2 separate regions of the Homo sapiens genome follow, and region 1 is linked to region 2. Evidence: fine-mapped expression QTL. A gene starts in region 2. The other region holds a variant in brackets. All regions are shown on one strand. Distances are from middle to middle.

Region 1 (14,241 bases), 170 kb after region 2:
TGCCAAAGGCTCCAAAACATTGTTCACCATTTTATCCCAACACTTCCCAAACTTAGGAGGACCAAGAATACTTTTTAGTATAAACTCTATTAAGCTATCTTATTCCATTTTTTACCATCTTGTTTGAATTCATTTTCGCGGCAGATCCAAAATCCACCAGCTTGATGTGTCCTGTGCGGTCAACGAGAATGTTCTCAGGCTTGATGTCTCTGTAAGAAAATCAGGACCATGAATTGCCTCCTCCATCCCAATCAGCAAGCAAGTGCTAACCTAGAATCTCAATTGAGCCAAAAATCTTTGTTTATGTATTCTGTTATATAGACCTCCTCTATTGGTGGATATAAATTATTAGCATACATTTTGCAAAATGAATTTAACCGAAAGGAAGGAAGGAAGGAGAGAGAGAGGGAGAGAGGGGGAAAGAGAAAAAGGGCGAGAGGGAGCAAGGAAGGATAGGAGAGAAAGAAAAGGAAGAGAAATGAAACACATATTATTCAATGGATTATTTCTCCTAGAGACACACATTTCACATGAGGAAAACTAAGGCCAAAAGGAGCTATGAAATTTTCCCAAGGTCATGTAGCTAGGCAATGGAAAAGCTGAGACTCTATCTCAAATTTTGTGATTCCTGGACTAACAATCATTGTATTCCCACAACATTCTCAGATGTACACAAAACATCAGATGAATGAAGACATGAAGAACCACTTACCAACTGAGGATTTTGTAGGCCAGGCATGGTGGCTCATGCCTGTAATCCCAGCAATTTGGGAGGACAAGGTGGGTGGATCATGAGGTCAGGAGATCAAGACCATCCTGGCCAACCTGGTGAAACCCCATCTCTACTAAAAATACAAAAATTAGCTGGGCATGGCGGTGCGTGCCTGTAATTCCAGCTACTTGGGAGGCTGAGGCAGGAGAATCACCTGAACCCAGCAGGCGGAGGTTGCCATGAGCCAATATGGTACCACTGCACTCCAGCCTGGCAACAGAGCTAGACTCTGTCTCAAAAAAAAAAAAAAAAAAAAAAAATTGTAAATTCTAACGGGCAGAGTTAGAGAAGTACAGCTCCATGGTCTTACACTACTATGTGGTATGACATTTCCTTCTGCAAACCAAATTCAGTTCTTCTATCATATAACCCAAAGAACTCATGCAAGAGTTCCCAGTCTTATTTAGCTACATTAATAGATATTACTAGCAAACTTGAGCACATTACAATTCTAGATCTATTGCACTGCTGGATAAGCAAGCTGAAATGTCCTCCATCTTGGAAAGTTTGCTTTCAGCCAGTTATTGGTAGACTGGCTAAAAACTGGATGGGGCGTTATCTTGATCTTGAAATCACTCATCCACTCATTTCCATGCAGGAACTCTTATGCGACACAGGAAAATCCTCAGCATAAAAATGCTACCAGAGTCTCACTTACCGATGCACGTATCCCATCAGATGAACGCTGTGAACAGCCAAAATCAGCTCAGCTAGGTAAAACTGTATCAGGTTTTCATCTAACTGGTCCTCATATCTATTCAAAAGTGACAGCAAGTCCCCTCCAGGCTGATATTCCATGACCTGTATAGAATGCCAAAGTTATTAATTCTTCACACACCCAAAAATAGGGAATGCCTCAATTAGATCCTCGAATATCACCTGACGTGTTATAATAACAAGGTCTCCACAAAGCAAAGAAGATGTGTAAGGCACGCTGTAAGTCATGTAGGATGAAGTCCCTGCCCTAAGGAAATTACATCTGTTACCCAGGGGAATCAATATAATGAAAGACTAGTCCCAGACACCATGCACAGTGTTTGCAAGGCAAGCTTGAACAGTTGAATTAAATCCACCCACTTTCCCACCCACAAGTTGACACCCCAGACATTCCCTAGGATTAGGTACAGTGTAGACGGATATTCCTAGAGGGCAACCACTCTTATATCCTTTCTGTATTCCCCTCAGCACCCAGCAGAATACAGAAGGCTTGCAATAAATGTGATACAATCTTTTCCTTTTATAGTCAGTGTGGAAGGCAACTGACAGCCTCTATTCAAAATTTAAATGTGAAAATATCCCCTTTGACCTAGTAATTCCACTTCTAACAATTTACAGGTACTTACAATAGTTTGCAGATAAATAGAAAGATAAATAGATTCCTTGCAGTATTGTTTGTAACAGGGGAAAAAAACATGGAAATCATTCAGCTATCCATCAGTTAGAGACTGGCTAAAATATGACATATGTAAACAATGGGATAAGACAAAGATATTAAAAACAAACAGATTCCATTTATTCATACTGCCATGGAAAATTGTCCATGACAATATAAAGTGAAATCTTGTAAAGAATAAAGTACAACCCCTTTTTTGAAATAAACAAGGAATTATTACATGTGTTGGTACATACACAGGAAAAAAATCTTGAAGAAGAATATGAAGCCTCAAGTAAAATGTTTGATTAGCAAAAAGAAACTCTTCTACCCCAAGGAACTGAAATCCTTTCTCCTTTTGATGATAAACAGGTGTGATATTCCTGAGTCCCTAGGTAGCTATAAGGCCAGTTAGCCTGGGCGGCTTCAGCCTCCTGCTGGTGACTTCACCTCGCTGCCTTTCAGTTTCATCCTCTCTAAAACAGGGATAAGACTAATCCTCTTGCAGCACTGTGTGAGGATTGAGTAAGACAAGGTCCTAGGAGGGCCTGGCACAGTGCCTGGCACCAACATGAAGTCTTCACCTACCATTCAATTCCCTTTCTTCCCCCCCACTTTACTGCATGATCCTTTCTGCTCTGGCCAGCAAAAAGAACCCATTTAGACAATCGCTGTAGCCATGTTAACCCTTATTGAGTTCTCCTGTCCTTCGCCCTGATTTCCCATTTTATTAGCCATGCTATAAATGTCTTGGAAGTTGTCTCATATGCTTTCTGGGAAAAAGGCAAGATCTGAATATACTTCTTAAAAAAAACACTAAATCTCACAAACTACTGCATTCCAAAAGCCAACTCGGGGATGTGAATTCTCACCATCATCCTCCAAACTCCTGCTTGCTTTTAGTCCAGAATTAGAAGAAAGCTCTAGACAAGTCAGAAGTAGAGCATCTGCACAGAGCCCCAAAGGCCTCAGGCTGGTCCAGTAAAATCTCCAGGAAGTGTGCCCAGCACCAAGGCAACCCCAAACCAGAGACCCCTGGAGAAGCCAGTGACTCGCGCATCCTCCCTGGGGGCTCCTTATAACCTGGGAATCTACTCCATTCACATGGTTTCTGACAACAGCAGACATTAAGCCAGACACTGGACAATTGCATTTGAAGAGTAAGGTTCCACTTGTATAACAATTGCTGAAAAAATTTTGATTTATGGGCTGGGCACAGTGGCTCACACCTGTAATCCCAGCACTTTGGGAGGCCGAGGCAGGCGGATCACAAGGTCAAGAGATCGAGACCACCCTGGCCAACATGGTGAAACCCCGTCTTTACTAAAAATACAAAAATTAGCTGGGCATGGTGGTGCATGCCTGTAGTCCCAGCTACTCGGGAGGCTGAGGCAGGAGAATCACTTGAACCCGGGAGGCAGAGGTTGCAGTGAGCTGAGATCAC[A/G]CCACTGCACTCCAGCCTGGCAACAGAGCGAGACTCCATCTAAAAAAAAAAAAAAAAAAAAAAAAAAAAAATTATGAACAAGAGGAACACTTAGAAGGGGGCAGCACCTAACATACACACCTTCTTTCCCCCAAGTTCCTAGCAGACATTAGTTACTCACCCCAGTCCTCGAGGAGCCCACAGGAGCCACCTGGCTGCCTGTAGCTCACCCACTCATCCCAACCTGGTTCTCCATAGGCCCTGGGTATGTGGGTGAATGCTAATTTATATGTCTGTTTTAAATATATATTGACATCGAAAAGGTCTTAAATATCCAAAAAAAGAAAAAGGAAAGAAATTCACAGATAATAACAGAAGTACTTATACTTTTAGTACTGAAATGTCTTAAAATAAGAACAATGCATATTTATGACGACACGCCACAGTTATAAATTTCCTATGGCTGTATTAAAGATGTGAAAAAAACAGTATGGCTTGTAAGTTTAAGGCTGAGAAAGTCATACGCATAGCAGAGCAGCCACCGGCAACTCTTAAGAACTGACAAACTGAACACAACTTAGTATTTGGCAGCTACTCCTGACATTCTATTTGCAATGACCAGTAAAATAGTTCAGAAAACAAGAGCCAGCTTGTAAAGTGGCAAAAAGACATGTATTCTTTGCTTCCATTCAGAAGATCCAACTTCCTGAACTGAAAATCCCCTCCCAAGTCAGATCAGTCTAAGAGTGGAACAACTTCCCATTTCTTCAAAACCAGGGTTGATTGAGAAAACAAGCAACAAAAATTACAACAGCTGCTACACAGCATGCTTCACAACATGAGGCCAAAACAGACACACTCAATGACAAACCTCTAAATAGACCGGGTCCTTATCAAAGATGCTAATCAAACTTGACCCACCAACACTATTCCAGGTTACCACACCAAAAATTCCAACAGTGCACCATTAGGAGAATGTAAGCCAGACATTTACTAAGTAAATGTGGCTATCCCAAGATGTTACCCATATCCCAAAACTATACTACTGGGGTATAGCTGCTCATTCTAGTATGAATGGAGGCCATGGGGAAGATGGCTTGTGTGTGGCCAACCACAGCTTATTCAATCATCATGCTGTTAGAGCTTAAAGATACAATAAAGACCCAGGACTTGAGTGCTTTCATAAAATACGTTTGGATTGTTAAAATGGTACCAAGAGGTTCCAAAAGCATCATCTAAAGTAACAAACTAGCAGTCTTTGAGTCTTCTTATCAGGTGACTTGCTGTGAACCAAAGAACAGGGTCAGCAGAAAATGATGAAGAAGTTAAGGACCAAGTCGCCACCCAGGTTGTGACCAAGAGTCCATTCACAGCATCTGGTTTTGTCCAAAAATGTAACTCTGTCCCTGACTTTTACTCTTCAGAGATGCCCAGTAAGGCACTGATTCTAAAAACCAGGATAGCCTTGGCTTCTACCCCAAGACAACTGTAGGTCCTCTAGGTTAGAACTTCCCAAGCCTGATTGTCCATCAGAATCACCAGAAGTGCTTGTTAAAAATAAGACAAGCCAGGCATGTTGGCTCATGCCTATCCTAGCCCTTTGGGAGGCTGAGGCAGTACAATCGCTTGAGGCCAGGAGTTTTGAGACCAGCTTGGGCAACAAAGCCAGACCCCACCTCTAATAAAAATTAAAAATTTAAAAGAAAATAAAATAGACTCATCTAAATCAATACTTGAGTGCCTATCGTGCCAGCCACTATTCTAGATGTTAGGGAAACAGCAGTGAATAAAACAGAAAAAATCCCCGACTCCATAAAGCTGACGTTCCGGTATAATGAAAAAGAGTTTTGTTTTTTTGGGTTTTTTTTGAGATGAAGTCTCACTCTGTTACCCAGGCTGGAGTGCAGTGCCACGATCTCGGCTCACTGCAACCTCTGCCTCCCGGGTTCAAGCGATTCTCCTGCCTCAGCCTCCGGAGTGGCTGGGACTACAGGCATGCGCCACCATGCCCAGCTAATTTTTGTATTTTTAGTAGAGACAGGATTTCATCATGTTGGCCAGGCCAGTCTCGAACTCCTGACCTCAAGTGATCCACCCGCCTCGGTCTCCCAATGTGCTGGGATTACAGGTGTGAGCCACTGCGCCCGGCAAGAATTTTAAAATAATAATAAGAAGAAGTATAGTAACATAAAGCATATCTCTTTCCCATCCCAACCACTTAGGGAGCTTAAAGGATTCCAGGGAATAACCCCAGACTTCATGGATCACATTCCATGGGTGGGACCCAGGAATCTATAGTAAAAGGAGCTACTGCGGTGATTCAGAGGCAGCTAGCCCAGCACTGTGTTGGGACCCACTGCTGAGGAGGCTGTGGAACCAATATGGCTCCCTACTCCAAGTGAATTGAAAGTTTCCATAGCAGCAATGCCCTTGATGAAACGTGACTTTCATATAGCCATCACCTCTGCTGCTTATATTTTTTTCAGTGACTACCTGGAGCCTTTCTGCATATCAAGACAAGATCACTGACGACAAAGGGCTGGAAAATAACCAGTCCATCAGCACTGAAGCCAGTGATCTTCCCTCCTTACAAGGACTGGAGATGTCTCCTGCACACACAATGAGCAGCTGCAGGTCACCCAAATGAGGATCACCAAGGCATGGTAATCAAAGGCTGGGGGCACAGGAGGAGGAAAGAGTCCTAGAGTGAAACAGCCCAAAACAATGTGGCAACCCCGCTGATGGCAGAGAAAGCACAGCAGCTGACAGACGAGCCTGGCTTGGAGCTATAATGGACTTGCTCTTTTAAAGCAAAGACTTTCAGGCCAACAGAGACAGACCCTTCTGATGGCAGCAGCTGCAGATGCTAATTAAAGGGCAAATCTCACATGTGTTCAGTTTGGAAGTAGCGGCTGCTTCTCTGTTGGTGTTTGCATCCATACCCCAGTACCAGGAAGGCAATTTCCATCCATTGTGTTGCATTTGAAACGAAGGACAAATGTGTCTGTGCACACGTGCACACACACATATACAATGAACCCACGTGCATGCTTGCATATGCGGGGATGGGGTGAATATTGAACAGTTCTTTAGTACTCTATTCCAATTCACATAGGGCATTAGAGGCATGCTGTGCTAGCCACCTCTTAGAAATGTCTCCTTGAAATGTTTGCACGCTCAGCACAACTGAAAGTGCCGTGAAAATGTAATGACGCTGGCGGCATCGTTATCCGCTCTGCCCAATGTTCCTGATCTTTGGCATGAGGGAGGAGAGAAGGGGTCCTCAAAGCAGAGTGGCCTCTGAGCAGAGTGGCCCCGATATTATTCTTCTTGAGAATAAAAACTCTGTTATTTTCTTCTTGGTCAAAGTGACCAAGAGAAAAAGAGAGAAGCACCTTTATCTTAGAAAACATGAAACCCAGCCTGTTTCATCCATCTATGCGAAAAATCCTCATTGAGTACTGAATCATCCAGAGTCTTGCCAAGAAACAGACAGGACACGCAAAACAGGGAATTGAGGACGTTCATTAGGGAAGGGGCTATTTACAAAGGTTCAGGTTAGGAGAAGAAAAATAAACTTGGGATGATGAAGCACCCCAGGGCTAGCAACAGAAGAGGACCAGATACCATGCCTGGGCCTGAAAGAGCAAGGACAGGGATTTCGGATGTGTACACTATTACTGAAGGGACAAAAGGAAGAAGCTATAACCAGAAACTAACTATAGCTACAGCTATAGAACAATGGTTCTCAAAATGAGGTCCCTACACCAGCAGCAGCATTACCTGGAAACTAGTTAGAAATGCAAAGTCTTGGCCAAGTGCAGTGGCTCATGCCAGGAATGCCGGCATTTGGGGAGGCTGAAGCAGGAGGATCACTTCAGCCCAGGAATTCAAGACCAGCCTGAGCAACACAGTGAGACCCCCATCCTTACAAAAAATTAAAAAGGTGGCAGGGCATGGTAGTATATGCCTATAGTCCCAGCTACTCAGGAGGGTGAGGTGGGAGGACGGCTTGAGCCCAGGAGTTTGAGGCTACAATGAGCTACGATCGTGCCACTGCACTCCAGCTTGGATGACACAGTCAGACTCTGTCTCGAAAAAAGAAGAAGAAATGCAAATTATTGGGCCCCACCCCAGACCTACTGAATCAGAAACTCTGGGGATGGGGCCAAGCAAGCTGGGACAACATAACTGAATTGTGGCTCCTAAAATGGTAGAAGTGTAAATGCACTCACTTGAAACATGCCTCAAAACACCAGAATAAAAAAAAACAACTATTTCAAAGGCACAGAAAACTCAAAGAACCTCCCAAAGGCAACAATACACTCAGCAATTGAATTGAAGTCAATAAGAGGAATTAATATCTCATTTCACCGATAAGAAAATTGAAGCGGAAAAGGCCAGTGACTCTGGAGAGACCAAACAAGGAATGGTAATAAAACAAGAACCAATATTCTAAGTCACAGCCTCATTCTGATGGGCAGCTGGTTTCCAAACCCTGGCTTCAGAAGCAGCAGCATGTGAGCAGGCCTGGTGAGTTTTGAGACATGCCTGAAAAATCAGATAATCTTAGCTGAGAGATCAAAACAGCACATGTCTCACTGTCAAAACTATCATAAGCTGCCACATTTCACTAAAGTAAACAATGAAGTTGTGTTCATTAACTCCCTCCAGATTCCCAATGACAGCATAGCCTGCTATTCATGAAAGCCTAGAAACAGCCCACTTTCAAATTGTTCCTATATAGGAAACAAACGCTGCCCATAAAATTACACAGGTGTGGGTTGAAAGCAAGATAATATAAAGAACTCATCCCAAGCAGGGCATCAGATCCAGTGGTTTCAGATCCAGAAGTATAATGCCTTGAGTAAGAATATGGAAGGTGAAACTACAGGCCTGGCTTCAAAGCTTAGCTGTACCTTGTATCACCTACAAAAGCAGCTGTTTATTTAACCTTTTTTTTTTTTTTTGAGATGGAGTCTTGCTCTGTCGCCCAGGCTGGAGTGCAGTGGCACCATCTTGGCTCACTGCAACCTCTGCCTTCCAGGTTCAAGCAATTCTCCTGCCTCAACCTCTGGAGTAGCTCGGATTACAGGTACCCGCCACCATGCCCGGCTAATTTCTATATTTTTAGGAGAGACAGGGTTTCACCATGTTGGCCAGGCTGGTCTCAAATTCCTGATCTCAAGTGATCCACTTGCCTCGGCCTCCCAAAGTGCTGAAATTACATGTGTGAGCCACCGTGCCCAGCCAAAAGCAGCTGTTTTAGCCTCTGTGACAGACTATTAATTGTGCCCCCAAATCCATCCTTCCCTTATTCCACAGTAATAAGAATTTTAGCTTGACAGAGGCCACACAGCCGACAGTAAATTCCCAGTCTCCTTAGCAGCTAGACGTGCAGTCACATGACTACGTTCTGGCCGAGAAAATGTGAGAGGAAATGATGTGTCCAACTTCCGCATCCATCTATAGAAAAAGAATTTGCTTACTCTGAATTTCTGTTCTTTTTTCCTACCAGGCAGCTGGAACAGAGACATGAAATGGCCCAACTTCAGCCATGTAAAAGAAGACAACATCCTAAGGAAGGGGGGAGTCACAACATGGAAGGAACCTGGGTCCCTGAATTAACACATACAGCAGAGCTGCTCTACCAGCCTGGGTTGTACATTAGGGTCTCTTTGATACAGCAGCTAAGCATGTACCTTAGCTAATACATCTCTACATGCAACCAGGGAAAAACATTTGGAGTGAACACAAGGAAGTCATTGTAAGGTTAGAACATGGAAAAGAAGTTCATGAGTCAATTGCAGGCTCAGAGCAAGGGTAATCTGAAGAAAACCACAGTAGGAAAAACATCAGCACAAATAATTTAGACAAAACAATACTGGCAGGGCACAGTGACTCACGCCTGTAATCCCAACACTTTGGGACGCCAAGGCAGGCAGATCATGAGGTCAAGAGTTTGAGACCAGCCTGACCAATATGGTGAAACTCCGTCTCTACTAAAACAACAAAAATTAGCCAGGCATGGTGGTGTGCGCCTGTAATCCCAGCTACTCAGGAGGCTGAGGCAGGAGAATCAATTGAACCCAGGAGGTAGAGGTTGCACTGAGCTGAGATCATGCCACTGCACTCCAGCCAGGGTGACAGAGCGAGACTGCATCTCAAAAAAAAAAAAAAAAAAAAAAAAATACTGCAAGTGGTGGGATGCAAAACTATGTGTTCTTTGTGAAGATCAGCTCCTTCATGGAAGGACACTGATGAAGGCATCTGTTATGCAGAATTGAACAGATTTCTTCATGAACCAGATCAACAGAGCACTGTTTCCATCAGCCACATGCAGAATACAGGACTAGCTTTGTTATATAGAACCAGACATTATGACAGAGTTTGCGACAATTTTCTATAGACCAGAAAACAATAAGCCACATTCACTGGCTTATTGTGGTATGTCACCACAAATGGGAAATTTTTAACCATCAAAATGCAAAAGAACTCAAGTTCAATTTCCTTGCACTGCATTCCAAATTTTGAAAATCTCACTGAGTCTATCTTGAATTACACACGTGAAAGAAAATAACTCCACTGAGAATATAATGCAAGTTCCGTAATACAATAAGTAAATTTGAATGCACATCAAATTTCTATGAAATTAATCACACATTCATCCAATAAATATTGCTTAAGCATTGACTTGGTAAAGCTCTACTCTCCCTTTATGGATGAAGTAGCCTAGTGGGACAGACCAGCACCCACTCATAAAGGAGAAGTACAGGGTGCAATGAGCGTACAGTCAAAAGGCGCCATTCCAGAAGTATAGGGTCTAGGAAGGGCTTCTGGAAGAAGTGAAATCTGATCCAACCCAGAAAGAGAAAGAGGAGTTAGCAAGGTGAACAGGGAAAGAGTGAACAGCATGGAAAAAGGTCAGAGGCAAGGTCAAAGAACCAAAGGAAGTTCAGGATGTTAAGGTAGAAAGAGAGAAACAGTAAGTGGCTGGGGACAAGTGCAAGAAAGGCCTGGTAAGTCACGTGGAAGAGTCTGGACTTCATCCAGAGGACAGCAGGGAGTCTTGAAGGGTTTCAACAGCGGGCTGACTTGGCTGCAGTATGTGGAAGACCTGGGAGAAGGGCCAGACAGATGGCAGGGAAAATACTTCAGAGGTTATCACAGTAATTCAGAGTAGAGAAGATGGATGCCTGAAACCCACACAGCAGAGGCAAGACTGGAGAGAAGAGACAGCCAGGAGGGATATACCATAGGAGGTAGAATCCTGTTGTTTTTTTCATTGATTTAAAATGTATCTTCAGGGCCAGGCGTGGTGGTTCACGCCTGTAATTCCAGCACTTTGGGAGGCCGAGGAGGGAAGATTACAAGGTCAGGAGTTCGAGAACAGCCTGGTTAACATAGTGAAACCCCGTCTCTACTAAAAAGACAAAAATTAGCTGGGCATGGTGTTGCATGCCTATAATCCCAGCTACTCAGGAGGCTGAGGCAGGAGAATTGCTTGAACCCGGGAGGCAGAGGTTGCAGTGAGCCAAGATCGCGCCACTGCACTCCAGCCTGGGCAAAGCGAGACTCCATCTCAAAATAAATAAATAATGTTCAACTGCCAAGGGAGCGTGATATGTAAGTTTCCCCAAACTTCAAAGGTTTGTTGATGTAAAAGTGGCCAATAGATAGGATGGAATTTCAGGACTGTACGGTACCGATATAAATCTAGGATCCATTTATCTTGAAGCAGAATGGGTTTCCAGATTCAGAATTTTTCAGATTTTAGAAAGGTAAAGTGGTACACACACTTTTTTTTTTTTTTTTTTGAGACAGATTCTTGCTTTGTCGCCCAGGCTGGAGTGCAGTGGCATGACCTTGGCTCACTGCAACCTCCACCTCCTGGGTTCAAGTGATTCTCCTGCCTCAGCCTAAGGAGTAGCTGGGATTACAGGCGCCCACCATCATGCCTGGCTAATTTTTGTATTCTTAGTAGAGACGGGGTTTCACCATGTTGGCCAGGCTGGGCTTGAACTCCTGAACTAAGGTTATCCGCTCGCCTCGGCCTCCCAAAGTGCTGGGATTACAGGTATAAGCCACCGCGCCCAGCCATACATACAGTTTATATTATGTAACACCCTCAGTAGGGTCTGGGACATCACCTTGTAATCAAACACACTCATAATTTTATAGCAAAATGGGAAGTCACACTAAAGGGAATGAATAAAGACTAAAAAGAGCCTTAAGAGAGCTTGGATCAAGTTTTGCCAAAAACTGAGTTCAAATCAGGTTTTGCTGATAAACAAGTAACAAAAGAATTTGAGGTTATTCAGAACTCTAGGTATTTCAGAATTACAGATAAGGGATGGCAGACGTATGAGCATATCTTAATTTCCATGCTAAATTTGAGCTTTTATGTGAAAACTATACCCTTAGCAAGCATTTTACTCAAAAGCAACAAAGTACTTGAGAAGAAAATGGAGACAAGAAAATATTAATAATTACAAAATCCCATCAGTAATACCCAATTGAGCTACAAAACAAGGGAGTAAAAATGTCATTGACCCAAGTAGCAGTGTGCTGAGGCAACCAGAACTCCAAAAAACAGCTGCATTAAGAACCCTCCTAGGCTGGGCACGGTGGCTCACGCCTGTAATCCCAGCACTCTGGGAGGCTGAAGCAGGCGGATCATGAGGTCAGAAGATCGAGACCATCCTGGCTAACACGGTGAAACCCCGTCTCTACTAAAAATACAAAAAATTAAACGAACATGGTGGCACGCGCCTGTAATCCCAGCTACTCCAGAGGCTGAGGCAGGTGAATCACTTGAACCCAGGAGGTGGAGGTTGCACTGAGCCGAGATTGCGCCACTGAACTCCAGCCTTGGCAACAGAGCGAGACTCTATCTCAAAAAAAATAAACCAAAAAACAAAAACAAAAACAAAACAACCTTCCATCTTGCAAGATGGCAGATGGAAAAGCTGAGTAGAAGCTAAGGATGCCGATGCCAGTGGTGAGATCATTGGGGAAGCCTCCTACATCTGGGAGCCTGTCCTAGCACAGAAACCCACAGACAGTCCCAATCCAAGAGGTACTCCGGGAAGGCTATGCCCAAGCAGATGTCCACAGCAGTTAAATCCACAACTAAGAAGACAAAGGTGGCCAGGCGCAGTGGCTCATGCCTGTAATTCCATCACTCTGGGAGGCTGAGGCAGGCGGATCACCTGGGGTCAGGAGTTAGAAACCAGCCTGGCCAACATGGTGAAACCCTGTCTCTACTAAAAATACAAAAATTTGCCGGACATGGTGGTGGGCACCTGTAATCCCAGCTACTCAGGAGGCTGAGGCAGAAGAATTGCTTGAACCTAGGAGGTGGAGGCTGCAGTGAGCCAAGATCCCGCCACTGCACTCCAGCCTGGGCAACAGAGCAAGACTCTGTCTCAAAAAAAAAAAAAAAAAAGCCAGGCGTGGTGGCTCACACCTGCAATCCCAGCACTTTGGGAGGTCAAGGTGGGCGGATCACAAGGTCAGGAGTTCAAGACCAGCCTGGCCAAAGTGGTGAAACCCCATCTCTACTGAAAATACAAAAATGAGCCGGGCGTGGTGTCACACGCCTGTAATCCCAACTACTCGGGAGGCTGAGGCAGGAGAACCCGGGAGGCAGAGGTTGCAGTGAGCCGAGAACACGCCACTGCACTACAGCCTGGGCAACACGGCAAGACTCCATCTCAAAACACACACACACACACACACACACACACACACACACACACAGAAAAAGGAAAGTTATTTCTACTATGACAAAACTAGGTGATGGTAATAAGAACGGTGACATCAAAGTGAGAAATTATCAAAGTGCCCAGATAGTACCCTCCTGAAGATGTGATTTGAGAACTGTTTAGACATGAAACAATGCACTCCCATCAACATGTAAGAAAACTACATTTGGGCATTCCTGCTGGGACTCCTCTGATCATCCTCACTGGCCACAGGGGAGGCAAGCAGTGGTTTCCCTGAAGCTACTGAGCAGTAGCCTGCCACATGGACCACTAAATCCTCAACTGAGTTCCTTCACACAGAACACTCAAAATCTGTCAGTGCCTCTACCAAAATGGACCTTGATGATGTGAAAATCCCAAAGCATTTCAATAATGCTTACTTTTAAGAATAAGTTGCCTGAGACTAGACACCAAGAAGGGGAGCTCTTCAGCTCAGAGAAAAGAAATATGAGTTTATGGAGCAGTGCAAGGTAGACCAGAAAACTGTGGACTCTCAACTTTGGTCCAAAAAATCAAAGCCCTTCCTAATTCCAGGACCACTTAGATTCTGTGTGGCCTTGAAAATGAAGTTTATCTTCACAAGCTAGTGTTCTAAACCTCCTGTAGAGCTCGAATTAAAATATCTAAAAATAGGCTGGGTGTGGTGATTCATGCCTGTGATCCCAACAATTTGGGAAGCCAAGGCAGGAGGATGACTTGGGGCCAGGAGTTCGAAACCAGCCTAGGCAACATAGTGAGACCCTAGTCTCTATGAAAAATTTAAAAATTCGCTAGGCATGGTGGTTTGTACCTGTTGTCCCAGCTAATCAGGAAGGTGAAGCAGGAGAATCACTTGAGCCCTGCAATTTGAGGTTACAGTGAGCTATGATCATGCCACTGCAACAGAGACATCATCACTTAAAAAAAA
Region 2 (15,222 bases):
AATTAGAAAACTGAAGGCCTCTGAAAAAATCAATATTAACTAGAACAAGTGCCATGAACTAGTTAGGTTCTGATGGGCTAGATGACATGAGTCATGAGACACTTACAGGGAAGGACAGGGTGCGGAGAGGTTTATTTTGTAAGACAGTTGCAGAAAATAAATTGGAAAAAAGATAAACTGTACACCTCTACCATTTGTTCTAGGACTAACCCTATTTTCTTTGAGGTAAAATTCATACAACATAAATGTTAATTTTAAAGTAGACATTTTTAAGTGAACAATTCATAGGCATTTAGTACATTGACAATGTTGTGGAACCACCATCTATGCCAAGTCTTAAAACATTTTCATCATTCCAAAAGAAAGCCCTCATTCCCTCTTCCGCCAAGCCCGTGGTCACCACCAGTCTGCTTTCTATTGACATGGATATATCTATTCTGTATATTTCATATAAATGGAATCATATAATATATGACCTTTTGTGTCTGGCTTATTTCACTTAGCATAATGTTAATATTTTTGAGGTCATCCACATTGTAACATGTAACAGTACTTTATTCCTTTTTGTGATAGAAGAATATTCCACTGTATGAACATACCACAATTTGTTTATAATTCATTTTGTTATTGTTGTTACAGAGTCTTTCTCTGTCGCCCAGGCTGGGGTGCAGTGGCACAATCTCAGCTCACTGCAACCTTCGCCTCCCAGGCTGAAGCAAGTCTCATGCCTCAGCCTCCCAATAAACTGGGATTACAGGTGTGCGCCACTACAACCAGCTAATTTTTTGTATTTTTAGTACAGATGGAGTTTCACCATGTTAGCCAGGCCGGTCTCGAACTCCTGGCCCCAAGTTGATCTACCCACCTCGGCCTCCCAAAGTGCTAGGATTACAGGTATGAGCCACTGTGCCAGCCTACAAACTCATCTCTTGGTGGACATTTGGATTCTTTCCACCTTCTGTCTATTATGATAATGCTGCCGATCCCTGTTTTTTAAAAGTCTCCATGGTTCATCATATCAAGAAGAATGATAATCTCACAGTACCCTGGACCAGAAACCAAGACATAAGATCCAAATTATGATCTATGACCACTAACTTTTTCTATAATTCAGCAAGCTATTGTCCCTCCTCATCTGTAACCTATGTGGTTGAACTAGGATTTTCATGCAATTAGTGTGTCTTGGGAGGTGTTTCTGAGTATTTATTTGGAAGGTGCTCCTAAAAAGAGATAAAGAAAAGGAAAGGAAGATAATCAATGAATTCCTTGATCCAATTACTGCTGTGGACATCTAGGGTGCATTTCCACTGGGGACCTCTGAGACACGGTAGGGAATATATCTTAGTTATACGAGAGCTAAAAAGAAATTATTTAGACAGTTAGTGAGGGTAAGAGAGTCCTCAGTAAGGTTTTTCTTTTAATAAAAACGCAGTCTCCAAATCATTTCTTTTTTTAACAAAAAGCAGCCTGAAAAATCAAGCTGCAAGCATAGATAAGCAAGCTAGAGGCTTGCATAGGTAAATACCAGCAGCTGTGCCAATAGAAAACAGATAGCTGGAAACCAGGTATATTCAACATGGAGGTTCCCTCTTCCCTTTTCTTTGTTGCCACGTGTGCAGATAACATGGCACCAGCCAGGTTTTTTAAAATTCCATTTGCATAATAAAAGATTAGAGTGGGATGACCAGCCTCTTCACGGGCTATGAAAATGGCACATCTGGTCCAACCAATCCACTACACCCCATGTAAATCATATACCATCTCCTCACGCTCATCCCTAAAACCAACCACACCTTGCCCCAAACCAGGGAAACCCACTCAGGACCCCTTCTTCTGCATGAGGAAGCTCTCTTCCTTCTTTCATCTATTTAACTTTCCACTCTTAAACCCACTCCTTGCATGGCCATGTCTTCAATTTCCTTAGCATGAGACATCGAACCTCGGGTGTTACCCCAGAAAAATGACGCTGCTTCATTAGAGTTAGCACATCCAAGGGGCAAGGGAACTGGCTCCTCTGTGGTTGGCTGAGGGCTTCTCTCAGGGTGTCTTCTCTGGTCCCCTTGGGTTCCCACTTGTGTCGACAAAGCTTTCTCCAGAAGGCCCTCAGAGTTGCACCTGCTCACAGTTAGGAAGTTTGGGGCATGCGCAGAAGGGCACATGCAGATGGGGTATGATGGTCCCAACAGCATATGTTAAAGTGATTATGAAACTTTGATATTCAAATCCCTGGGAGCTTACATTTTAAAGAGATGAGACAGAGACAGACTTCCTCTCATTGTTTTCACCTCCGTTGGATCTTTGCCTGGATACTGCTTTAGTTTGTCACTTGTCCTCTAGAAAAGGGGTAGAAAGTGTACATCCTTTTCTCCTCCATTCCTTCAAAGCTCTTAAAAGAGGATAGAGATGCCAGGTGCAGTGGCTCACACCTGTAATCCCAGCACTTTGGGAGGCCGAGGAGGGTGGATCACCTGAGGTCAGGAGTTTGAGACCAGCCTGGCCAACATGGTGAAACCCCGTCTCTACTAAAAATACAAAAAGTAGCCAGGCGTGGTGGGGTGCGCCTGTGGTCCCAGCTACTTGGGAGGCTGAGGCAGAAGAATCGCTTGAACCCGGGAGACGGAGGTTGCAGTGAGCCGACATTGCACCACTGCACTCCAGCCTGAGTGAAAAGAGTGAAACTCCATCTCAAAAAAAAAAAAAAAGAGGATAGACTTGAGGTGAACTTTATTAAGAACATTGTGTTACCTTGAACTGGGCACTTCTCCCTTCTAGGTTTCAGCTTACCCTGTGAGTGAAGCTATTTATTTAAAAAAAACTTTATTGAAAATAAAATAAAGATACAGGAAACTACACAAAAGAAATGTATGGCTTAGTAAGTTACTACAAGGCAAACATGTTAATAATTACCAACCCAGGTCAAGAAACAGAATTTTCTCAGACAACCTAAAAGTCACAAAATGAGGCTATTTGCCAATTAAGGTTGTAGACCAAATGCTGTAGAATGAACTTCTTTTAATTCTATGTTGATGACTCTCTGTCACAATATTCACATCTCAGTGCAAAGAGAACACAAGAATGTCTAGCAAGAAAAGATGGACAAGTTTCTCAAACATTGGCAGTGTTACTTACATTGGCTAGGCAAAATTCAGAAGGCCTGGTGGAAATCTGGTTAAGCCCTAAAAGTAAGCTTGTAATTCTATCCTAGCAGCCCACACACATTTGAGTCTGTCTTAGTCAGCTCAGACTGCTATAACAAATCATCAACTGGGTGGCTTAAACAACAGAGATTTACTTCTCCCAGGTCCGAAAGCTGGAAGTCTAATATCAGTGATATAATTTGGATACTTTTCCCCCTAAATCTTACACTGAAATGTAATCCCATGTTGGAGGTGAGGCCTCCAACATGGTGGGAGGTGACTGCATCATGGAGGTGGACTTCTCATGAATAGTGTAGCACCATCGTCTTGGTGCTGCCCTCACAAGATCTGGTTGTTTAAAAGCGTGCGGCACCTCCTCCCACTTTTTTTCTTACTCCCACTCTTGCCATGTGATACATCAATACATCGGCTCCCCCTTGGCTTCCTGAGGCCTCACCAGAAGCAAGCAGATACCCAGAGCCATGCTTGCTGTACAGCCTACAGAACCATAAGCCAAGTAAACCTCTTTTCTTTATAACTTACTCAACCTCAAATATTTCTTTATAGCAATACAAGAATGGCCTAATACAATCAGGGTGCCAGGATGGTTGATGTGTGGTGAGGGCTCTTTCCCTGAGTTGCAGATGGCCGCCTTCTTGCTTTGTCATCACATGGCCTTTCCATTGAGCATGGGCGTGAATAGACAGCATGCGAGCAAGCTCTCCAGCGTCTCTTCTTCCCATAAGTACCCTGATCTCATCATGGGGGCCCCACTCTCATGAGCTCATCTAACCCTAATTACCCCTTGAAGGCCCCACCTCCAAACATTATAAAATTGGGAGTGGGAGTGCAAATGTATGAATTTTGGGGGGATACAATTTAGTCTACAGCATAGTCCAAATGTGAAATTTCTTCCTCCAGCTACCGATGTTTAGTGAGAACACTGCCTGTTCTCACCACATGTGCATATGTGTGTGGACTCTTTCCTCTGGAGGGCAAGAACTTGGTTTTGTTCACTGTTGTAACCAAGAGTTACAACAGTGCCTGGCTCATAATTGGCACTCAATATTGCCATTGAGTTATTTGTGATCAGAGCCCTGGCTGTTCTTAGATGGGGAGGGTTCTTCAGAACAGTACAAATGTTTGTAGACAGGCCAGCTGGGGAACCAAAGGTCTTTTTGATGAGGTGCCATGACCATGATGTAGTGGGGAGTGGCCAGGTGATCCAGAATTCAGTCTCAGTATGACCTATGATCATCTGAGTGACCTCAGGCAAAACTGTTCGATCTCTGGGACTTAGACTCTTCCTTATATAAAACAAATGGGTTGGTCAGTTCAGAAGTGCTATACTGATTCTAATCCATCCTATGGAGGAGGCCCCAAAACATTATCCTTAACCCTTTTAATCATAAATTTAAGGATAAATGAGATTTTATCTCACTCTGGGTGACTTTTAAGGACTTGAAAACCTACTTCTTTTTGTGCTTGGAGCTGGAGTGAATTTGAAGCCAGGGTTGCGGGGGTGGGGGAGGGGTACTCCTAGCTGTGGCTGTGTTAAAATTGCCCTGGTTTGTTTGGGGGAGAATCTAGGGTATTTATCATTTGTCTTTGCCCTGGTGCCAGACAGACAGCAGTGAGTAGATGATGCCTTTTACACAGCAATGTGCTAACAGTTATACTTCCTGGCACACCTCCAGCCCCCAAGATGGAATGGTCTGACATCCATATCAGCAGAGAATCAGAGAAAGATGAGACGCTCTGATGCTTAGGAAAGTCACAAACCATTGTTACACAGATAAGTAACACAAAATGACCCAAGAGAGACACAGCTGGGACCCAAGTAGACACTTGTAATTGGCGAGTCTACCCTACCCATGATTTTCAATATGGGGTCAATAGCTGATAGATACCAATGTTAGTTTCTTTGTCATGAAATCTTGATACAATGTGGTAAGAGTTTCCAATCAGCAGTTGGTGGCATCCTCAGGATATTGTTGATTGTATTTGACATCAAGGGCCACCCATGCTTTCACTGTTATCTTATTCAAGCTAGTGCAGATGTCTTAAAACTTTCTTCATGCATCAAAGCATCTGCATAGCTCAGATAAAGAATCCACAGCTCATGTGTTCTTTCTTATCTCTCCGGCTGTTTGGGAGAGATTTCAAAACTCAACACCCCACTGTCTCATGTAACCAAGTCAGGGCCACTATTAGAAAAGCAGCTCAAAGAAGATATCCTGGGTCATCCACAGTATCTTAGCTTATTTAATTCAGCAAGCACATTCAACATTTCTGATTATACTGAATACATTCAAATTCTCAGTCATCAGCTTCAGGAAGACCCTCCTGGCTCCCATCCCTTTTCCTGGCTCCCATCCCTTTTCCTGGCCTGGCTTAAGTCCCTTCTGGGCTCCCACAGGATCCCTTACCTAGCTATATTATTGCTTTTCTGTGGGTCGGTGCCAGCCTGTACTGTATTAATTCCTTTGGGGCTGGAACCATATCTTATTTTTTTAAATTAAAAAGTAGTACATCCTCACAATAGAAAACTTTTCAAATACAGAACTATATAAATGAAAAGTGAAAGTCCCTTTTCTGTCTGCTCCTATTTGCAATCTCCCTCCTCTCCCCACAGAAGACCACTATTAACAATGTGTTGTATACCCTTCCAGAACTTTCCATTTGCTAGCCTAATAGTGCTAATAAAAGTGTTAACAGTTATTGAGTGTTTACTAAGAGTCAAGTGCTATGCTCAGCATTTTTATGCACGTTCCCAATTAATTCACAAAACAAGCCTATGAAGTAGGTGTTATTTTTGTTCCCATTTCACAAAAGAAGAGACTAAGGTGACAGTTACTAAATGGTAAAGCCAGAATCTGAACATGGCCAGGCTGAATTCAGAGCTCCTGCCCTTGAACTTGTTCTCTCACTTGCTTCCGGACCTTGCAATATCATAGACACTTCCCCATAGTGACCTAAAAATGGTTTCTCCCTTTTTAAAAGTTGCTTGGTATTCTACAAAATGAATGTATTCCATTCATTTTGCCATTCTCCTACTGAACAACTTTTAGGATTTTGTAGTTTTTCATTTCCTTATTTCACCAAGTGTAAGATTCCATTATTGTAAAAAGCATCCAGTTTCAGAAATTAAAATATATGGGGGCATGGGGGGTGACAAGTGCATCTTAGAATATATTTTTGCATGTAAATATTTTGTAGATAATGCTTGTAAATAATTTTCATGTGTGTATTTCTGCACAAGTTTCCTAGGAGTAAAATTGTGTGTCAAAATGAAGGTGCATTTTTAAATTTTGATGCATACTGCTGAATTCCCCCCAGGAAACCTTATCTTAGTCATCTTGTGTTCCTCATTTCCTTAGCACAATGTCTGGTACTTTTTTAGGTACTAAATAAATGTTCAGTGGGTGAAATGCATGACCTGACCCGGCAAATGCAAAGTATTTTGAGATATTCACACACCAAAAAACCCACAAAATATGACAATGACTGACAATGAGAAGATGAGAATATTTTACTACCGTATTTGTATGCACTTCTTGTTGAAGCACTGACCAGAGTAAATGACAAACGCTAATGCATCTTATGCAGAAGGATGTTTCCGAAGTGATTACAAGATATCTTGCAAAATTACCTATCAAAAGATTGCACACTCAATAAAAATACACGAATAACTCCAGCATTTTACAACCCCCAACCTACTAGACATAAGAAATTTCCAGAGATCTTATGGTCTGCCATTTTTTCAAATACCTGCAAGACTGCCTGCACCCCCGACCCTAATCTGTAGAAATCATGATTCTGCAGGTCTGCAGTGGGGGATGCATTTAACAAGCGCTCCAGGTTAACCTAATGCACTGTAAAGCGTGAGAACACGTGCATTAAAAGGGCTTTAAGAAGTGGAGTTTCTGAATCAGATTTGCATTTTAGAAAGATCCCTCTGGCTGCAGAGTGTAGAATCAACTATAAGTGAGCAAAGATAGCTAAATGGCATTATTCAGCCCAGCGCATGAACGGCTCAGATTGCCCGCGCGCTGGGGTGCCCCCTGCCGGCCCTCGGCAGCGCCTCGTCCTGGGCCTGGCCCTGGGCGGCCGGCTGCTGACTGCGACTGCGCGCTCCGAGGCCTGCAGAGACGGCCCGGGGCACCTGTTACCGCACCGCTCAAGACCGGAAGCGGAAATGGAATCGAGATAGCCTCGCGCGTTTAGCTGGCCGCCGCCACCTCCACGCCCTAGGCCGGGCCGACTTACGGAGTCGCCGGAAGCGGAAGTCGCTGAGGGGTGGTGAAGCGGTTGGGAAAGTGTCGGTTTATCTTCGCGCCCCTTGCGTTCTTGCCGCGGCTTGCCTGGGCAGGTAAAGCGCGATTGCGAGAGCTCGGCAACCCTGCCGACTCAGCCGGAACCGGCTCCCGGCCCGAGGGGCGTGGTGTCCTGGTGCTCCGACTCCTTCCGCAGGCTCCTTGGGACCCGCGGTTCCGGGAGTCCCTTGCTCAGGGTCCCTTTCCTGCAGTGAGGCGCCGTCCGCCTTCCCTGTGTCCCCGCAGACCCCCATCATGGGCAATACCAGCAGTGAGCGCGCCGCGCTGGAGCGGCATGGTGGCCATAAGACGCCCCGGAGGGACAGCTCGGGGGGCACCAAGGACGGGGACAGGCCCAAGATCCTGATGGACAGCCCCGAAGACGCCGACCTCTTCCACTCCGAGGAAATCAAGGTGCGAGCGGTGTGGAGGAACCCGATTCCCCTTGACTAATGTTGAGGAGAGGAACCCTCCACTAGATTCCCGTCACATCCTTTCGAAAAACACCAGAACGGAGAGGGAGGTGGTACATTACCCGGTGCACTTAAAAGCCAGATGGTCCTGTAAGAGTTCTCTTAGCGGTCCAAGAACCTGTGTCTAATTACCAATATGAGAAAGTCACCCTGAGGGAGGAGGTGCTCACTTGGTTTAACATCATTAAGGAGAAAGCAGCTCTGGGACAGAGTTTCAAATTCTTAATTAATTCAGAGTCGAGCTAACAGTAATTGAGCCCCAGCTTCTGCTTTTCTCTTAGGTGTAATTAATTGCACTGCTTTGAGACAAATTCCCTCACCTTTACACAAACTGGAGCTTTTGTAAAAGTTAGTTTGGGAATTTATCCATTTTGGAGGCAAACCAGGTACATATACAAGCTGAAAGTAGAGCGGAACAGCTGACGGCAGTTGCCAGAGGTGTTTAGTTCTGCCCAACACTTTTGATTCACCCTACTTATTTTTTAAAAGACGGTGGTCTCACTAATTAGCCGGGCGTGGTGGCGGGCGCCTGTGGTCCCAGCTACTCGGGAGGCTGAGGCAGGAGAATGGCGTGAACCCGGGAGGCGCAGCTTGCAGTGAGCCGAGGTCGCGCCACTGCACTCCAGCCTGGGCGACAGAGCTAGACTTCGTCTCAAAAAAAAAATATAAATAAAAATAAAAAAGACGGTGGTCTCACAATGTTCTCCAGGCTGGTCTCGAACTCCCGGGTTCAAGCAATCTTTATGCCTTGGCCTCCCAAAGTGCTGGGATCGCAGGCGTGAGCTACGGTGCTGGCCGGTTCAGCCTACTTTTTTTTTTTTTTGAGACCGAGTCTCGCTCTGTCGCCCAGGCTGGAGTGCAGTGGCGCGATCTCGGCTCACTGCAAGCTCCGCCTCCTAGGTTCACGCCATTCTCCTGCCTCAGCCTCCCGAGTAGCTGGGACGACAGGCACCCGCCACCACGCCCGGCTAATTTTTTATATTTTTAGTAGAGACGGGGTTTCACCGTGTTAGCCAGGATGGTCTCCATCTCCTGACCTCAGGAGATCCGCCTGCCTCGGCCTCCCAAAGTGCTGGGATTACAGGCGTGAGCCACTGAACCCACCCTACTTATTTTTTTTTTTTCCTTCTTTGAGATGGAGTCTCACTCTGTTGCCCAGGCTGGAGGGCAGTAGCACAATCTCGGGGCACTGCAACCTTCGTCTCCCGGACTCAAACCATCCTGCCTCAGCCTCCCGAGTAGCTGGGACTACAGGCGTGTGCCACCATGCCTGGCTAATTTTGTGTATTTTTGGTAGAGGTGGGGTTTCGCCATGTTGCCCAGGTTGGTCTTGAACTCCTGACCTCAAGTGATCCGCCCGCCTGGGCCGCCCAAAGTGCTGCGATTACAGGCATGAGCCACCACTCCCGGCCTCACCCTGCTTTTTTTTAAAGCGTACATAGAAAAGTCTTTCAGCTTCTAGAGGTCAGTGGGCGGTGAGGGTCTGTCTGAAGGAGGCAGCCAGCAGCTACTGAACTTCTCTCTAGTGTTGTTTAAATATGACTTAATCGTGCTTAAGCAGGCCAGTGCAAACATTTTTCTTCCTGCTGCAGCCTGTTTAAATTCAAAAACTCAGGTGACTTAACTCCTGCTTCAACCACACTCCTGTTAACCACCTTCATATGGTGGATATTTCCAGCCGCAGGGCTCAGTCCAAGGACACTTAGTGATTCTGGCAGCTGGTATTTATGTGTTATGTCCAAAAGGAACTAATTGTTTCAAGGAACAAAGTAGGTTTAGGAAAGATAAAGCTGCCCTCTGCCCAACATACCCTGTTAGTATCCAATTTCATGTTAATCATCATCCATTTAATTGCTTGGCAGCTCATTCCATCTGTGTTTGTCCTCATGTTGAGCGAGGTGATCACATCTCACACCTTCTTTTGGATCTTAGTTTTGAGCCTGACTACAAAGAGGCTGCTTTTATGTGGCCCTACAACCTGTGGTTTGAACTTGCTCTCTGAATTTGTTGCATTCTTGAAGAGCTGTGTGCAAAGTGAACTTTAGAATCATGTTTCTCTAATGACTTGACGTCCTTTCCCCAGGAGGTAATTTTGGTCCCTGGTCCCAAGAAGGCTATTTAAGACACCAAAGGAATCAAAACTACTTTCTTCAGAAGTATTTGTTCTGTTACTATTCCAAAACTCCTCCAGGAAATGTTGAGCACACACATCATCTATGGGGAATGATTTCAAGCAGCGTCCATTCTCACTTCATTAGAAGTTACTGAAATCCCCAGATACCAAAAAAGTCGTGAATTCTTTTAACTACACTAGGGTGCTATTTTGGTCATAATTAGTTATCCTTAGTGTGAAGTGATTCCAGTCTGTTATTTAATATGTAGATCTTGTTAGAATTCAAAGAATACAGGCATCATTTGGATAAGCTGAGGTCGGTATTTGAGATGAAGGTGCTAGAAGCCTGCTTAACTCCCTGAAGAGTCTTTTCCAGCCTGAACCTTCTGCTCTTTTTAAGTCTTTGGCTTCTGACTGGGAAAAAATCTAAAAGGTGCATGACTACATATGTCATCCAGATAGATTTGGATGAGTTTATTTCTTATTCTGGAATACCTCAGTTATACGGAGCTTACCACACTGGAGGTTATCATTTATCCTAATGAGGGTTCAGTCTTTGTCTTGCTTTATTCCCCAGTCCCTAGACAGAACTTTGTGAGTAGTTTTTCCCTTCCTCAAAATCTGGATTTGCCTATTTTCAAGTTGACAGCTCTAGAATTGTTCCTCTTAAATTTTCATGTACAGTCATACATCACTTAATGACAGGGACATATTCTGAGAAATACATCATTAGGTGATTTTATCATTGTGTGAACATCATAGAGTGTACTTACACAAACCTAGTCTGTTCTCATGCTACTATGTAGAAATACCCGAGACTGGGTAATTTATAAAGAAAAGAGGTTTAATTGACTCAGTTCCGCATGGCTGGGGAGGCCTTAGGAAACTTACAATCATGGTAAAAGGCACCTCTTCACAGGACGGCAGAAGAGAATGAGAGCAAGCAGGGGAAATGCCAGATGCTTATAAAACCATCAGATCTCATGAGACTCACTCACTGTCAGAGAACAGCATGGGGAAACCGCCCCCATGATCGATACCTCCACCTGGTCCTGCCCTTGACACGTGGGGATTATGGGGATTACAATTCAAGGTGAGATTTGGGTGGGGACGCAGAGCCAAACCGTATCACCTAGTCTATATGGTGTAACCTGTTGCTTATGGACTATAAACCTGTACAGCATGTTATTCTACTGAATACTGTAGACACTTATTCCACAAGTATATTTAAGGATTTGTGTACTTAAATGTATCTAAACATAGAAAAGATAACAATAAAAATATGGTATAATCTTATGGGACTACCATATACACAGTCCGTCGTTGACTAAGACATCATGCACATGACTGTACTTCAAATCTTGCTTGATTAAGGGAGGAACATGACATTAAGCTAGTCTTGGATTCGTAGTAGCCCCTTCCAAGTGTGTTTCATAGCTTCTTCTAGAATTTTGATGTCAACTTCTTTAATGACAACAATAGCTAATAATTAGCACTCACTGTGTCAGACACTATATAGAGCACTTACATGGACTGTCTCAGTCTTCACAACCTTAAAAAATATATTTCTATTTTGCAGGCAAGGAAACTGAGGCACCACTAGTAAGTTTCCGATCCTAACCATGAACCAAGATAGTAACAGCTGCGTCTTTAGAATGAATTGTCAATATTGTCTGTTGTAGGGAGCTCGCTTATGGCTTTCTGAGTAAACTGCTCTGCTTCTAGGCACCAGAGAAGGAGGAATTCCTGGCCTGGCAGCATGATCTGGAAGTGAATGATAAAGCTCCCGCCCAGGCTCGGCCAACGGTGTTTCGATGGACGGGGGGCGGAAAGGAAGTTTACTTATCTGGGTCCTTCAACAACTGGAGTAAACTTCCCCTCACCAGAAGGTAATTGCCTGGGGAGTGTTCACATATTTGTCTTAACATAAATTCTCTTCTTTCTAAAACATCTCTGAGAGAGAACAGAAAATGGATGTTTCTATAAAATGGATGCCTAGTGGAAAAATAATTTTGCTTAATAAGTCTTAAGGTTCAAATGTTAAACCTTGGTGGTCTCTAGGTTTAGAGTACAGAAGAAAGAGAATATTTCTGTGTCACAGACATCTTTCACTTCAGATCCTCAGCTATCTGTTCGGTCAGGACTTTTCCACAGAAACACAAAAATCTGTCTTAATGCAGTAAGGGAGCACTGGGCTGGAATCTTAGAAACCCACATTTGAGCCCACATTGGCCATGCTGTCAGTCACCTAACGTTAGTTAACCTGAGCCTCAGCGTTCGTTTCTGTAAAGAGGGAATATTGGACCAGATCATCTCTGAGGTTTCATCTAACTTTGACTCTGCGTAATACTTTGTTTGAAAAGTACATGTTGGCTGGGCATGGGGGCTCATGCCTATGATCTCAGCACTTTTGGGGGCTGAGGCAGGAGGATTGCTTGAGGCTAGGAGTTCAAGACCAGCCTGGGCAACATAGTGAGACCCCCATCTCTACAAAAAAATTAAAAATTAGCTGGACATGGTGGTGCACACCTGTATCCCCAGCTACTCGGGAGGCTGAGATGGGAGGATTGTTTGAGCCTGAGAGGTCAGTGCTGTAGTGAGCAGTGGTTGCACCACTGCACTCCAGCCTGGGCAACAGAGCAAGACTTTGTCTCCAAAAAGAAAAGAAAAATACATGCTATGTAGGTGTCATTAGCAAGGATTATAGTAAGACATTTTATCAGGAACCCCAGCATGGACTTCTGTCTTAAGTTGTCAGTGAGAGAACACCTTTAGTGAGTATTCTTGATAAAATGAGGGAGAAAGTGTCAGGCCTATTGTCAGGGGCTGCCTGCTTTCCAGCGTTTCCATTGGAGAAGGAGGGAGCCACTCAGCACAGCAGTCACAGGTCAGTTCAAGCCAGGGGACAAAACAACCCAGTGAAGGGGCTCTTCCGGAGTTTGGTTTTTCAGTCATTAGGCAAGTTTCTTTAGAGAACATTTGAGCTTCCTATTCAATTGATCCCTTCTCCTGCCCAAGGCAAAGTGACAAAGGGTAAAACGAGGCAGCTTCTGTTTATCTTGTGTTGTCATCCTCCTTGGCATCCAGGAGCCTTGCGAGCTTGAGACGCACAAATGCCTGACTGTTGACCTTTTAACATTAGGGATGTGGTTTCCTGGTATTTGAGTAAGGTGAGTTTTCAGGAAACTGTGTCGCACTGCTGCTTCCTTATAGCCTTTTCAGATTGAGGTCATTATGCTGAATTGTCTAAATGGGCTAAAAATGTTTGTTCTCCTGCAGCTGAACTCTTGGTTTTATGTGGAAACGTTTTGTTCTGTAGCTGGTTTGGCAAGTAAGCTCGGGGGGCAGCCCACCCCACGGAAGTCCTCTGCTTCCTTTTTCCTTGCAGCCACAATAACTTTGTAGCCATCCTGGATCTGCCGGAAGGAGAGCATCAGTACAAGTTCTTTGTGGATGGTCAGTGGACGCACGACCCTTCCGAGGTACTCTTCCTCCCACCTCTGGTCCTCTGGGTGCCCGCACATTCCAAACAAATCACCTTCCCAAGAGATTGCCGCTAGGTCCCTTTGCCCAGCTAGTAAAAGTCCCCGTGTGTGGCAGAGCTGAGTAGCAGCACTACCTGTCAGACAGTTGGCATACTTGACCAAGATGAGCAGGGTGGCTAGCCAGGAGATGAGGCCTTCCAGCCAGGAATTCCAAGTCCTCTGAAGAATAACTCCGCAGACCTTCCACGTTATGATTTCTGCCTATCTGTCTCTTCCCAGCCCATAGTAACCAGCCAGCTTGGCACAGTTAACAACATCATTCAAGTGAAGAAAACTGACTTTGAAGTATTTGATGCTTTAATGGTGGATTCCCAAAAGTGCTCCGATGTGTCTGGTATGAACACAGTTATTTTATACCACATGCGTGCAGGTGGGGGCTGTACAGTCTAGACATACTCTTGTTTCTCTTGCCTCTCTTGAGCTGAAGCTGCCCAGTCAGATAGGCATTTATAGCCCCCACTTAAAGGCCACAGAACTTAATTCCTGTCAGGTTGTTGAAATTTAGCCCTAAGGGAGCTACAAGTCATTTCCCTGGTCATCTCAGGTATTCAGTAGGTCTGCTTGGCCACAGAACGCAGACAGCAGAAATGGAACCATAGCTTGATCTCGTGCCAAGGGCAGGGCTGAAGAGGCCCTGGAGGGTGGCACTGAGTCAGTGACAGCCCAGCACTGGGGAAGCCTGTGTCTCATCCCACTTGTGGTGCCTGAAGAATTTCAGCCTGACAGGTGTAAATGGACACCTCAGTGACCTTAGCAGTCACTTATGTGGTACATTAGCACCTTGTCAGAATCCCTTTGGGGAGGATGCGGCTCCCCACGGGAAACAGCCTGCACAGCCCAACTCTCCTTGATGGGAAGCTATTTGGTACAGAAATACAGACCCAGTAAAACTTCTCCATCTTGTAAGAGCCTTTCAGGCATCGAGGTTTCAATAAATTGCTTTCCCTCCAAGCCCCACAGGAAGAAACTACCTGGAACATGATTCATACAGTTCGGGGGAAGAGGGTTGCGATCTAAAGTGTTCCCCTTCTTGGAGGCGGGGGCTTAACAATTCCTGGACTCTGAGGGAGGCAGTGGAAAGATGCCCTGGCAGAATATCTGGCGCCCTAAGAAAACAGATTCCGTTCGTTGACAGGAGAGTTCTTCATCATTGTCTAGTTAGGCCTGGAAGTTCTGCCACCAGGATTTCTTGTTACCAGTTCAGAAATCACAGTGGTAAAATGATCACAATGGGCTCACTGTGGTTGACAGTTTGTTGAGCAGGACTTGGAAATCCGAAATCTGTGCTTTTATCTGGGTAATTAGTCTTTTAGAGATATCATCTAGTTTTTTTGCAGATAGTTGAGAATCAGGGAATGGAGGAAGTGTGCCCAAATATCCTCCAAAATATATAACTTACTGATACATGTAATTTTAAGCCACTTACAAGCTTTTTAGTCAAATTTCCACCTAGGGAAAGGAAACGGACCCCTCACTGATACGAAGCTAATTCCACGTTCTCTACAGACTTCTGTTTCGACACTTACTTCCTCAAAATGTTATTTACTCCTTATGGCTCAGTTTTCTGCACTTCATGCTTTTCTCAGTTTCTTGCTGTGATATGGTTGGGTCACATAAACGGGGCTTGTCCCCTGAAAA

Alleles and levels. Alleles are on the strand shown, and positions count from the first base shown. SD is a standard deviation of normalised expression in the study named.
As copies of G replace A in region 1, the expression in whole blood of the gene that starts at base 7,591 in region 2 goes down (moderate effect, 0.65 SD a copy in Lepik 2017).

Evidence for each region. PIP is the estimated chance that this variant, and not a neighbour inherited with it, causes the effect. A credible set is the group of variants that fine-mapping cannot tell apart.
Region 1: its variant is the best candidate, but not a certain one, in a credible set for the expression of PRKAB1-AS1 in whole blood (Lepik 2017, PIP 0.52).

The regions. Positions count from the first base shown.
Region 1 is chr12:119,832,656-119,846,896 of GRCh38, forward strand. It overlaps CIT (citron rho-interacting serine/threonine kinase), which reads right to left. Exons shown (of 48, transcript NM_001206999.2): 6 at 1,431-1,573; 7 at 116-209. Among named protein-coding and RNA genes, the nearest start is that of CIT, 38 kb to the right of the region's middle. The variant A/G (reference allele first, on the strand shown) is at 3,589.
Region 2 is chr12:119,660,537-119,675,758 of GRCh38, forward strand. PRKAB1-AS1 (PRKAB1, TMEM233 and CCDC60 antisense RNA 1) reads right to left here and starts at 7,591. Exons shown (of 3, transcript NR_188494.1): 1 at 7,407-7,591. It overlaps PRKAB1 (protein kinase AMP-activated non-catalytic subunit beta 1), which reads left to right and starts at 7,597. Exons shown (of 7, transcript NM_006253.5): 1 at 7,597-7,867; 2 at 11,765-11,928; 3 at 13,428-13,521; 4 at 13,804-13,918. The coding sequence starts at 7,709. It overlaps LOC124903033 (a long non-coding RNA gene), which reads right to left. Exons shown (of 2, transcript XR_007063485.1): 2 at 13,864-15,222. RefSeq lists enhancers at 5,165-5,309, 7,444-7,853, 8,292-8,927, a cis regulatory region at 5,229-5,246 and a silencer at 7,074-7,343.